3 separate regions of the Homo sapiens genome follow, and all the other regions are linked to region 1. The links come from fine-mapping of genetic effects on gene expression. A gene starts in region 1. Each other region holds a variant in brackets. All regions are shown on one strand. Distances are from middle to middle.

Region 1 (4,245 bases):
AAAATGACTGGGGCAAGTGAAGAGCTGCTTAAGATTAAAAAGCTGGAGTAAGACAAGTGGGGAGACAAGATTTCTGTTAGGGGAACTATGCATTGAAAGAGGGGCCTGACGCTGAAATGGGGGTGCTGTCTCTACCTGGTCCCAAGGTCTGAAATGCTGGAAGACATTTGGAAGGTATGTGGAATGAAGAGCAGCACAAAGAGAAAGGTCAGGGACAGATGTGTTTGGGAAGGTGAAATGATTCCTGCTTCCAGGTATGTGTGTGTGAAAGGCTAGCTGTTCTTTTCCATCCTCATATCTAGTCTTAGAGCCCATTTGAGAGATGAAGTATGTGTGAGTTTGGAGGTGGGAATGGGGATCCTGAGTGTGTACCTGGGGTCCCAGTGAGATAATTGAGGTCTGGGGAAAAAAAGAGCCAGAAATCCCTGACGGTTCTTGTGTTCTGATTCCTGCTGGAGGGGGTAAAGTGTGAGAGGGGTATGGTGGTCTTGGTCTTTAGTTCTAAGAGACAGAGAGGAATAGGGACAGCAGTGAGGGGTGGGGGAAAGGGGATACTTGTCTAAGTGCTCAGAATGTACAAAGCAAGTTTGAAGAGAGGTCCCTAAAGCTATGTCAGGAGGGGAGAATTAAGACTCTATTTGAGAAGCTAAAAAAAATGATTAGAGGAGTTGAGAACTGAAGCAGTCAAAAAGGAGAGGAAGGGTGAAATCTCATGGCAAGATGCAATAGGTGGGGTGGTCTGTTTCCCATGGCTAGTCTTGGTTCTGAGAGTGAGAGAACAGTGACAGTGAGGGGCAGGCATGGAGGCAGGCCCACTTCTCCCAGGAAGCAGATGTCTAGGATGATGTGGATGTTGGGGATGAGGGTCACAGGGAAGAGACAGGAAAGAAAGAAGAATGCCAGAGCAAAGAATTAGTGAGGTGGGTTGGGTCCAGCAGTCCTAGAACTCTGTGGGGATGACAACGACGTCCCTAGCTGTAAGAGGTGGAGCCTGGGGATGGGAGAAGAGGGGCTGGCCCTATGGGGACAACTATGAGGAGAAAATCTTATATGACCCTCACACCCAGGGTGTATGTGTGTACGACTCTGGGGGTGATTGCTTCCTAGAGCTTGAGTTGGGGATGGCAGTAGCGAGTGGACTATGCTGGGCCCTTCAGTAAAGGGTGAAAGGCGTGTGAACTCTCTGGGCCCATGCTAACGGGTGAAAAAAGGGCCCTGGCCTGGGGCTGAGTAGGTCAAAGCTCACTCCTGTACCTGTGCTTGGATCCAGATGTTTGGTGGAGGCTCTACTGTGGTATGAGGGCGGAACTGAGTCAGTCCCCTCACCCCGAGGCTGGGTGGTAAGGAGTTCAGACGGGATCAGGTGGGTGAGAAGTGCTCTGGGGAGCTAAACTCCTGTCTAGATTCTTTGCCATTCTATGGAATGCTAGATCCACACAGTCCTGGCCTGAGAGGCTGCCAGGCTGTGTTGAAGCGAGTGTCCGCCCTTGAGTTTACAAATCATGTTGTGCCAGCTGTGCCGTGAGGGACTCTGGGCTGGGATGGGGCAGGTGAGCAACCTCCGACCCGCAGGTTTTACCAACGCTGCCATCTGCCCCAGACCCTGCACTGGGAGAAGCGGGGAAATCGGGCGCTCTGGACCAGGCCTCCGGTACTCTGAGTTTGGGCAGAAGACAGTTCCCTCCTCCACCCTGGCCGGCTCCGTGGCGTACCTGGTCACCGACACCCAAGCCGAAGTAACCGTGTGTCACCACTTCCCAATGCAAGAAGCAGACGAGCGCGTCCTGCCTGCAGGTGATGGCCGGCGCTGCCGATGCGAACAGTACCTCCAGGCCCGCCATGAGCGCCCGCGACTTCGGCGTCTGGAGGAAAGAAGGGGGCGGGGGTAGTGCAGTGAGCCGGCTCCGCGGCCGGGGTAGCTATAACTCTGCTTCCCTCTTGCGCTGGTTCTTGCCGAGTCCACACCTGAGACCAAAATGGAGACGCCCGGGGACGGGGCGGGGCGGGGAAGCCGGAAGTAGTCCCAACAGCGGGCGCAACTGCGTGAGGCGCGCCGGGTTGGCAACGCGAGCGCAGCACTGAAAGGTTCCGCCAGGGAGTGCGAGCGGGGCGTGGCCCCTCAAAGCCGGAAGCCGGGTCTTGGCGGCAGTCGACAGGATCGCCTGACGCGGGCACAGCGTCCTCCAAGAGGCCACCTTGCTGAGAGGCAGACTTCCCATCCACAAAATGGGGTATGCTAGGCCGGGGAAGGGGCTGGGAAATGTGGCTAAAATACATTCTTAATAATCGTTAACACGTTCGCCGTGCTTGCTACCGTCCACATTATTCTAAACGCTTTACTTGTATTCATTTATTTAATCTTCACAACCCAACTCTATGCAGTTGATATTAACGATTAATGTGCCTCATTGCACAGATGAGGAAACTGAGGCGCAGAGGGATAATTTGACCAAGATGACAACAGCCAGCCGGTGAACGGCTGAAATGGTTATGGGAACCTGGCAGTCTGGCTTCTAAGATAACATTTATTAAGTGTTTATTGTGTGCTACATCGTGCGCTAAAACCTTTACATCACCCTCTCAACAACTCTATGAAGTATGGACCGTTATTATCCCCATTTTGCAGATGACAAAACGGCTCAGAGTTGAAACCACTTCTCCAAGGAGACACAACTGCTGCCCGCAGAGCTGAAGCTCCTGACCCACTATCAAATTTCAATCATTTATTTGCCTACCCCCTTTATGATTTTTACCACCCGTTACTTCAACAAGTTTCATGAAATCCACTTATTGTTTTTACCCAAATAAATTTAGTTTCCCCATCCCAGTCACTAACCTGGTTCAAGCTCCTGTCATCTTTCACTTGGATGCCTGGCATCAGCCTCAGAACTGCCCCATTCCATTCCTGTCTCTCTCTAGTCTGTACTGCACTCCGCAACCAGAGAGATTCTGTTAGAAAACAAGTCAGATCGGCCAGGTGTGGCGGCTCATGCCTGTAATCCCAGCACTTTGTGAGGCCGAGGCAGGCGGATCACTTGAGGTCAGGAGTTTGAGACCAGCCTGGCCAACATGGTGAAACCCTGTCTCTACTAAAAATACAAAAATTAGCTGGGTGTGGTGGCGCACGCCTTTAGTCCCAGGTACTCGGGAGGCTGAGGCATGAGAATCAATCGAACCCGGGAGGTGGAGGTGGAGGTTGCAGTGAGCCAAGATCGCACCATTGCACTTCAGCCTGGGCAACAGAGCGATCTTCTGTCTCAAAAAAGAAAAAAAAAAAAAAAGAAAAGTCAGATCACATCCGTTGGCTCAAAATCGTCACACTCAATGGAAAAGTAAAGTCCTCCCCATGGTCTGCAGGAATCTGCATGTGGTCTGCCATCTCCTGCCCCAGCCCTGCCAGCCCTGTACCTCTCTGATTCAGTCTCCTTCAACTGTCCTCTCATCCCCTTTATACGTGCAATAACCTTGGCTCCCCCTCTTCTCTCACATCTACATCTGGTCCAACAGCAAAGCTAGTTGACTCCACTCTCAAAATATATTATGAATCTGACCACTTCCCATCACCTTCACTGCTTCCACTCTGGTCTGATCCTCCAGCATCTCACACTTAGACTATTGCAGTAGCTTCCCAGCCAGTTTCCCTGTTTCATGTGTTCTGTTTGGGCCTTTGCGTTCCTCTTCCTGGAATGCTCTTTTCCCAGATATCTGCATGTCTTGCTTCTTCATTTCAAGTGGCTTCATCCCTCACTCCTACCATCCTCAACAGAGGGCTTCCCAGACCATTCCATCCAAAATAACCTTCTCCCGTCTTTAATCCCTCTCTGGCTTTTTTTTTTTCCTGCAAAGCATTAATCATAACCTGAAACTATGTTAGGTGTTTATTTCTTTGCTTATTTAATGACTGTCTTTCCACTAGACTGTGACAAAGGAACAGGGAGCATGTCTACCTTGTGCACATATGTACCTGAGTGCCTTCTGGGATCAATCTATACTTATTGAAAGACAGAATGAATACTGAATGAAGGAATGAATTCTTGGCCTAGCCCCAACCCAGTCAGGGCACTCTTACCTCTTTATAGTCCATCACTCCCTTTGTCAGCTGGCCCTGTGCCTCTCCAAATTTTGTGTTCCTAAAGTTTCCTTGAGACAACCAGATTCTTGAACCCCTTCTGCAGAGATTCTGGATGAGAAGGTCTGAGGAAGAGTGCATGTATGTTGACTACATTCTGGATGACACTAAAGCTA
Region 2 (4,245 bases), 52 kb after region 1:
TAAAATCATGAGACTGAACAAAAGGGTTGCTATGGTCTGAATGTGTTCCCCAAAATGTGTGTGTTGGAAACTTAATTGCCAATGCAACAGTGTTGAAGTGGGGCCTTTTGAAAGGTGTTTAAGCCATGAGGGCAGAATGGATCAAGGTACTGATAAAAGAGCTTGATGGAGGGAGTTTGTTCCTTTTTCATAATTCCGTATCTTCCACTATGTGAATTTACAGATTTCCTCTCCTCTGGAGGACAACAGCATCAAGGCACCATCTAGGAAGCAGAGGGCAGCCCTCACCACACGTCTGAACATGCTGCTGCCTTGATCTTGGACTTTCCAGCTTCTAGAACTGTGAGAAATAAGTTTGTTTTCTTTGTAAATTACCCAGTAGAGGTATTAAATTATATACAAAGAGAATAAGGAAAGCACGTAAAAGGAATATATAGAAGGAAAAGAAAGAGTCCTAGGACTGATTTTGGGGGTCTCCAACACTCAGATGTCGAGAACATGAGGAAGAACCAGCAAAGAGAACAGTGTCAAATGCTTCTGAGCAATCAGGTAAGGCGAGGTCTGTGAACTGACCTCTGGATTTGGCAATGCAGAGGTATTTGGTGACCCTGATGAGAGTAGCTTTGAAGGAGGAAAACCTGTTTGGCATAGAAGGAAAGAAAATGAAGATAGTGAATATATACAATTTTTGAGGAGTTTTGCTTCAAATGGGAAGAAACAAAATGTGGGGGTAGCTGCACAGAGATATTGAGACAAGGGAGGGTATATACTTTTTAGAAGATGGGAGACTAATGGTATATTTGTCCACTTATGGGAATAATTTAGCAGAGAGAGGAAAATGATTCATGGAGGGATGATTATAGGAGCAAAGTCCTTGATTAGATGAGAATGATGGGATCCAGCAGACACATGGAGAGAGAGAAAGGGAGAGAGAGAAAGAGAGGGAGGGAGAAGTATTAGAGAGACGTGTTGATGGACTAGTGTAGAAGTTTTTATAAAAAGTTATTGTCATTCCACTTGCTTTCATTTGTAAGCCGTCAGTTAGAAGTGAGGAGAGAAAGAAGGTGTCAAAGATGTGAAGAAATAAGAGAAAGTGAAATGGTTGCCCAGGAAATGGAAGAGTAAATTGACTAGAGAAATATAGTAGCATTGTCAGATATCATAGGATTGGAAAAAAATATACTACTTGCTAAAATTCTGGAAAGGAATGAACAGCAGGGGAGTAAGCTGAATTATATAGCTTCTTTACCCCAGACCATTTTCCAATTCTAGGCAAAAGCAGAATGCTGAGAATCCAAGTTTTATGCAGCACTGGACTAGTGTGGAAGAAACCAGCAGAGCCTTTGGCAGACTTGAGGGCTCATTAATCCCTCAAGACACTTGCTGGATTCTGGGATACCTGGTGCAGGAGGCTATAAACCTTGGCATAAAGCCTCTGAGAAGAGGTGTTCAGTGTATGACTGACTGAAGCACAGGGAAACTGACCTTCCTGGGGTTACCTTACAGTCTTGACTCAGTACAATCCCTGACTGGTTTATGATGATAAGCCCCACTCTGTGCCTAGCAGAGGGTAAATCTTCTCTAGAAGAATATATCATCTGGAGTCTCTACATTATGTATAATAAGTGGCATTCTATTAACATTATTAGTTATGCCAAAGCTAGGACATATCTGAAAACAAACAGAATAAAATAGACAATAGAAACAGGTATATGATAATGACTTTGACATGCTAAGATTAATATGTTAAAAAACAGAAAAATATGCACAAAATATTTGAAAAGATGGAGAATTTCATCAGAAAATTAGCGTCTATAAAAAAGAAAAAATGATACCTCTAGAATGAGAAAATATAATATCTGAAATCAAAAATTCATCAGATGGGATTAACAGAGATTTGATACAGTGGAAGATAGGATTAGCACACTTAAAAAAATGAAAAGTGTCCAAACTAAAGTATACATAGAAAAATAATAGAAAATACACGAATGTGTCATAGATATGTGGGACCTAGTAAAAAAAATATACATTTATTTGGAGTCCTAGAAGGTGAGGATAAGAATACAAAATTAACAATATTTGCAGAAATAAGAGCTAAGAATTTTTTCAAAACTGATAAAAGATATCAACCCACAGACTCAAGAAGCTCTGACAATCCCAAGCAGGGTAAATACTAAGAAAATTATACA[T/C]AGGAACATCATAGTAAGACTGCTGAAAAACAAAAATAAAGAGAAAAATCTTAAAAGTAGTCAGAGGTAAATGACATTACCTACAGAAGAGCAACAATAAGACTGATGGTAGACTTTTCAACAGAAATGATGAAAGCCAGAAGACAATGAAATAACATTTATAAAGTGCTGAAAAAATATACATAATTGACAACTTAGAATTCTATATCTAGTAAAAATACTCTTCAAAAATAAAGGCAAAATCAAGATGGCTTTAGACCAAAAACAACAACAACAACAACCAAACCAGGGCTGAAATTTATCGCAAGATTACTGGTACTAAAATATTCAATAAAGTTATTTCTAAAAACCAAAATAAAATTATCCCAGAGTGGCCAGGCATGGTGGCTCACACCTGTAATCCCAGCACTCTGGGAGGCCAAGGTGGGCAGATCATGAGGTCAGGAGATCGAGACCATCCTGGCCAACATGGTGAAACCCTGTCTCTACTAAAAATACAAAAATTAGCTGGGTGTGGTGGCATGTGCCTATAATCCCAGCTACTTGGGAGGCTGAGGCATGAGAATCACTTGAACCCAGGAGGCAGAGGTTGCAGTGAGCCGAGATCGTGCCACTGTACTCCAGCCTGGTGACAGAGCAAGACTCTGTCTCCAAAAAAAAAAAAAAAAGAAAATTTTCCCAGAGTACAGAACTTCAGGGAGGAATAATTCAAGTTTACCAAGTGATAGGAAGGAAAATTCAAGTTTATCATACTCTTCAAATAATGGCCCACTATTGTCATCAGGATATATAAATATTCTCATTTGTTCTTTTATTGTTCCTCTCTTCTTTCTGAATCAGTCTTTCTATTCCCCTGCCTCACCACCCCCAACCCCAAGAAGACACCCTCCTTAGTGTGTATGCTGTATCTTCTTGATACATATGTATTGCAGAAAATTATAAAATTTTGTGTATTTATATATGTTTTACATTTATACAATATTAAAACATATTTTGGGCTATCAATCGCAAAACAAATATATAATATCAGATGATAATAAACACTAAGAAGAAAAATAAAGCAGGGTAGAGATTCATGTGATCAAAGCAGGTGTCTCAGAAGAGGTGATAATTGAGAGAGATCAAATAGAGTTAGGCAAGAAGAAGTACAGGGACTAGTAAGTGCAAAGGCCCTGTAGAAGGAGCATAGTTAGTGTGTTTTAAATAATCCTCATAAGTTTCTTGGAATCACCCATTAGTCTGCACTGGATACTGTATCTTGAGCCCCAGTGACTCATTTGGTTCTAATTTTGATGATTGGTAGCACCTGGTGCTGGGACAATGCTGCCTCTGGAGTTGTTAACGCCTTGTCAATCTGTCCCTTTTAAGTGGCGCCATGTGCACATGCTTTGGCACAACTATAATTGCAGTTTGGGTTTTAATTAGAGGAAGCCCCCTGGGACATTAGCTATGCACTAGCAAAGGCAGGCATCCTCCTGCAGAGTGCCCCTAACTAATGATATGCTCTGGGCAGACTGGTCCACTGGGGTCACCTGGAAGCTTAGGGCTGCAGATGTGGCAAGGGCAGCTGAGAGATGCCCTCCACCTGATGGTGCAGGTGGCCACCAATCTTTTCTTCCAGGATGGATTCCCTGTGTTGGCAGCAGCTCTCTGGAAGGGGAGATAAGAATTGCTTGCCCCATTTAATGGGGAAACCAAGGCAAGACTTTCTTAGATTTCCTTCAGGCAAATGCCATTCAAATCATTCATGAACCATTTACTGAACTTTCATTCAGGCCCAGGCTCTGTGCAAATGCCAGGTAGAAGAGTAAACAAGCCACAATTCCTGTCGTCAAGGAACTTAAAAGCATGTTCACATTTTGACTTTGCTACATGAATAGACCGTCTTGAGTAGAAGCAGTTATGAGCTAGCAAGCTGGAGCCTTGAAATCTAATCTCTAATCTGAACCACCTCTTGGGTAGAAGCAAGGGGTATCTGGTGTGTAATTCCTGGGCTCTGAGTATTACTAGACCTTCCTTTCTCCTCCCTCCTTTTTCTTCCTCTTTTCTCTCCCTC
Region 3 (4,245 bases), 20 kb before region 1:
TTGGTTTGGATTTCCATTTCCCTAATGACCAATGTTGTTGCACACCTTTTCTTGTGCTCATGGACTATCTGTACATCCTCCTTGGAGAAATATCTACTCAAATCCTTTGAACATTTTAAAATTGAGTTTTCTTTTGTATTGTTCAGTCGTAAGAGCTCTTTATATATTCTGGATACAAGCTTCTTGTCAGATATCTGATTTGCAAATATTCTCTCCCATTCTTTGGGTTATCTTTTCAGTTTCTTGATACTATCCTTTTATGCACAAAATATTTTAATTTTGACAAAGTTTGATTTGTCTATTTTTTCTCGCTGCTTGTGCTTTTAACCTCCCAGGTATTGTGTCTAAGAAACCACAGTCTAACTGAAGGTCAGGGAATAAGACTACCCAAGGTAGACTTATTTCTAGGTCTAGAAATTTTATAGTTCAAGCTCTTACACTCAGGTGTGTGATTCATTTAGAGGTAATCGAGGAAGGGACCCAACTTCATTCTTTTGCATGTAGATATCCAATTGTCCCAGCACCATTTGAAAAGACTATGGTTTCTCTACTAAATTGTCTTGGCAACCTTGCTGAAATCAATTCCCTATGAATGTATGGGTTAATTTCTAGACTCTCAATTCTATTTCCTTGCTCTATATGTTTATCCTAATGCCAGTGCCACACGGTCCTGATGATTGAAGCTTTGTAATAAGTTTTGAAATAGGGATCTGGAAGTCTTTCAACTTTGTTTTTCTTTGAGATTGTTTTAGCCATTCTGGTTCCCTTGCATTTCTACCTGAATTTTAGGATCAGCTTGCCAATTTCTGGGGGGGAAAAACCCAAAACCTGCTGGGATTTTCACTGGGATCGCACTGAATAGGTAGATCAAGTGGGGAGTATGGCTAATATTAATTCTTCCTAGCCGTGAGCACAGAATGTCTTTCCTTTACTTAAATCTTTAATTTCTTTCAACAATGTTTTACAGTTTTCACTGTACAAATCTTACACAATTCTTTCCCAAATCTTTCACAATTCTTCTTTTGTTAAATTTATTTTTACGTATTATATTCTTTTGGGGGTTGTTATAAATGGGATAATTTCATTAATTTTTAGATTGTTCATTGCTAATGTACAGAAATACAACTGATTTTTATCGTTTTTTTTTTTTTGAGATGGAGTCTCGCTCTGTTGCCCAGGCTGGAGTGCAGTGGTGCAATCTCAGCTCACTGCAAGCTCTGCCTCCCGGGTTCACGCCGTTCTCCTGCCTCAGCCTCCTGAGTAGCTGGGACTACAAGCACCTGCCACCACACCCAGCTAATTTTTTGTATTTTTAGTAGAGACGGGGTTTCACCGTGTTAGCCAGGATATCAATTTTATATCCTGCCACATTGCTGAACTTGCTTAGTTCTGTTTTTCGGAGGATTCCTTAGGATTTTCTGTATACAAGATATCACGTCATTGACAAATAGAGGTATTTTTACTTCCTACTTTCTAATCTGGATACCCCTTATTTTTCTTGAGTGATTGCCCTGGCTAGAATATCAAGTACAATGTTATATAAAAGTGGCAAAAACAAAAGCAAACATGCTTGCCTTGTTCCGGATCTTAAGAGGAAAACACTCCATCTTTCTCCATTAAGGAGAATGTCAGCTGTGAGCTTTTTGTAGATGCTCTTTATTGGCTTTAGAAAATTCCCTTCTATTGTTGTTTTTTGTTGTTGTTCTTTTCGTATGTGTGTTTTCTGACACAGTCTCGCTCTGTTGTCCAGGCTAGAGTGCAGTGGCGTGATCTCGGCTCACTGCAACCTCCACCTCCCAGGTTCAAGCGATTCTGCCTCAGCCTACCGAGTAGCTGGGATTACAGG[C/A]ATGCACAACCATGCCCAGATTATTTATATATTTTTAGTAGAGACAGGGTTTCACCATGTTGGCCAGGCTGATCTTGAACTCCCGACCTCAAATAATCCACCTGCCTTGGCCTCCCAAAGTGCTGGGATTACAGGGGTGAACCACCATGCCTGGCCCCTCCTATTGCTGAATTTGTTGTTTTTTTATTTGCTTTTGTTTGGTTTTGTTTTTTTTTGTTTGTTTTTGAGACAGGGTCTCACTTTGTTGCCCAGGCTGGAGTGCAGTGGTGTGATGACAGCTCACTGCAGCCTTGACCTCCCAGGTTGAAGTGACCCTTTCACCTCAGCACCCTAAGTAGCTGGGACTATAGGTATATGCCATCAAGCCTGGCTAATTTTTAATTTTTTTTGTAAAGACAGGGTCTCACTATATTTCCCAGGCTAACTGAATGCTCCTGTCATGAAAGGGTGTCAGACTTTGTCAAATGCTATTTTTCTATCGAGATGAACATGTAGTTTTTATCCTTTGTTGTATTTTTTTTTTTTTTTTTTGAGATGCAGTCTCTGTTGCCCAGGCTGGAGTGCAGTGGCGCCATCTCAGCTCCCTACAACCTCCACCTCCCGGGTTCAAGCGATTCCTGTGCCTCAGCCTCCCAAATGCAGGGATTACAGGCATGAGCCACCGGGCGCCTGGCCTCCTTTGTTCTATTGATATGGTATCTTAACACTGATTTATTTTCAGATGTTAAATCAATCATTCCTGGAATCAATTTCACTTGGTCATGTTATATAATCCTTTGTATATGTTGCTGGATTTGGTTTGTTAGTACTTTGTTAAGGGTTTTCATATCTGTATTCATAAAGGATACTGGCTTGTAGTTTTCTTGTCATGTCTTTGGTACTGGTTATCAGGATAATACTAGCTTCACAGAAGAAGCTGGGAAGTATTCCCTCCTCTTCTATTTTTTGGAGGACTATGTGAAGAACTGGTATTAATAAAAACTCCTTATTAAGGAAATTTTTTAACATACCAAAAAATAGTAAGAATAGTATCATGAGTTCCTGTGTGTATTCCCGCCTAACTTCAATAATTATCAATAGTCCACCATTCTTATTTTACTTATACTTCCCCTCCCCAACACCTTACTCTTTTGGCGGGGGCTGAAATTATTTTAAAGTAAATCCCAGACATATCATTCACCTTTAAATACTTCAATGTATATCTCTAACAGATAAAGACTTTTTTTAACATAAGCAGAATTATTTCACCTAACAAAACTGGCAGTAATTCATAATGCTATCTAATACCTGGTCAATGCTCAAATTTCCCCAAATGTTTGAAAAATAATTTTTTGAATTAGTTTGAATCAAGATCCAAACAAGGTCCAACACTGCATTTTAGTTGGTATGACTCTTTCCACAAGAGCCTCCTTTTCTCCCTTTTCTCCCCATGCGATTAATTTATTTGTTGAAAAAACAAGGTCAATTTATCCTATATAATTTTTCCATATTCCAATTTTGGATGTTGTATCCTCATGCACCTGTTTGACTCATTCTTCTGTCCTTCATATTTTTAAACTGGGAGTTAGATCTAGATTGAGGTTGCTGTGAACTTACTATTGCATAATATTAGAAAACAGTATCTGGCTATCCCACTTTTAGCGTTAAGATTAACCAATGGGTTCAGATGCTACTCGCCAGATCCACCTAATATAAAGTCCCCTATCGACCTTTACTTAATAGTTTTATCAACCATTGACAATTTGTGACTAGGTACATTATTTCAGCAGAAGTTGCAACATGGTGATTTTCTCATTCTCTCAGTTCTTCCAAGGCTAGGATTTTTACTTTCACAATTCTATACTCTACGTCTATGATTCCCAAATAGGGAAGCATAGCCTCCAGGTGCCATAGTGCAAGCCCTGGGGTCATTTTTGCTTGTCATAGTAGTTGGAGGGCGTTCTTGGCATTTACAGGCAGAGACCAGAGATGCTGGATGTTCTACAATTCATAGTAGAGTTTCACGAAATGAAGAATGACCTGCATCCCACACAATTTTCAAATGTCTTGTTAGATACTCATGGAGGTGTAAAGCCTAAATAAATTATCTGAATGTAAGGCCATTTTATATATGAACACTAAGTATTTTTTTCTACTACTTTAAAACAAGCACATTTTTCCAGGAATGTAACTATGGTATAACTGAAGAAACAATATTCAATCACTATTTTGTTTGCAATTCTCCTAACAGCTGTTTACCATTTCAAAAAAGTCATGTTAGTAACAGCAACAGAGTTTTGTGGTATTTGAGTTGTTGACATAATACATCTATATACAACAGCCTTTGTCACTGTTGAATTCAAGATAATTCCACATACAGGTGTAAACATCCATGCTCTCCAGTGTACTCAGGCACCTAC

Evidence for each region. PIP is the estimated chance that this variant, and not a neighbour inherited with it, causes the effect.
Region 2: its variant is the best candidate, but not a certain one, in a credible set for the expression of PSMF1 in blood mononuclear cells (TOPMed, PIP 0.60).
Region 3: its variant is the best candidate, but not a certain one, in a credible set for the expression of PSMF1 in skeletal muscle (GTEx, PIP 0.55).

The regions. Positions count from the first base shown.
Region 1 is chr20:1,116,370-1,120,614 of GRCh38, reverse strand. It overlaps PSMF1 (proteasome inhibitor subunit 1), which reads right to left and starts at 2,013. Exons shown (of 7, transcript NM_006814.5): 1 at 1,713-2,013. The coding sequence starts at 1,841. It overlaps LOC105372493 (a long non-coding RNA gene), which reads left to right and starts at 2,167. Exons shown (of 2, transcript NR_136535.1): 1 at 2,167-2,231; 2 at 2,627-2,763. RefSeq lists enhancers at 1,741-1,870, 1,911-2,100, 2,111-2,160, 2,171-2,220, 1,620-2,262.
Region 2 is chr20:1,064,267-1,068,511 of GRCh38, reverse strand. No RefSeq gene overlaps it. Among named protein-coding and RNA genes, the nearest start is that of PSMF1, 52 kb to the left of the region's middle. The variant T/C (reference allele first, on the strand shown) is at 2,190.
Region 3 is chr20:1,136,651-1,140,895 of GRCh38, reverse strand. All of the region lies in intron 4 of PSMF1 (proteasome inhibitor subunit 1), which reads right to left. Among named protein-coding and RNA genes, the nearest start is that of PSMF1, 20 kb to the right of the region's middle. The variant C/A (reference allele first, on the strand shown) is at 1,847.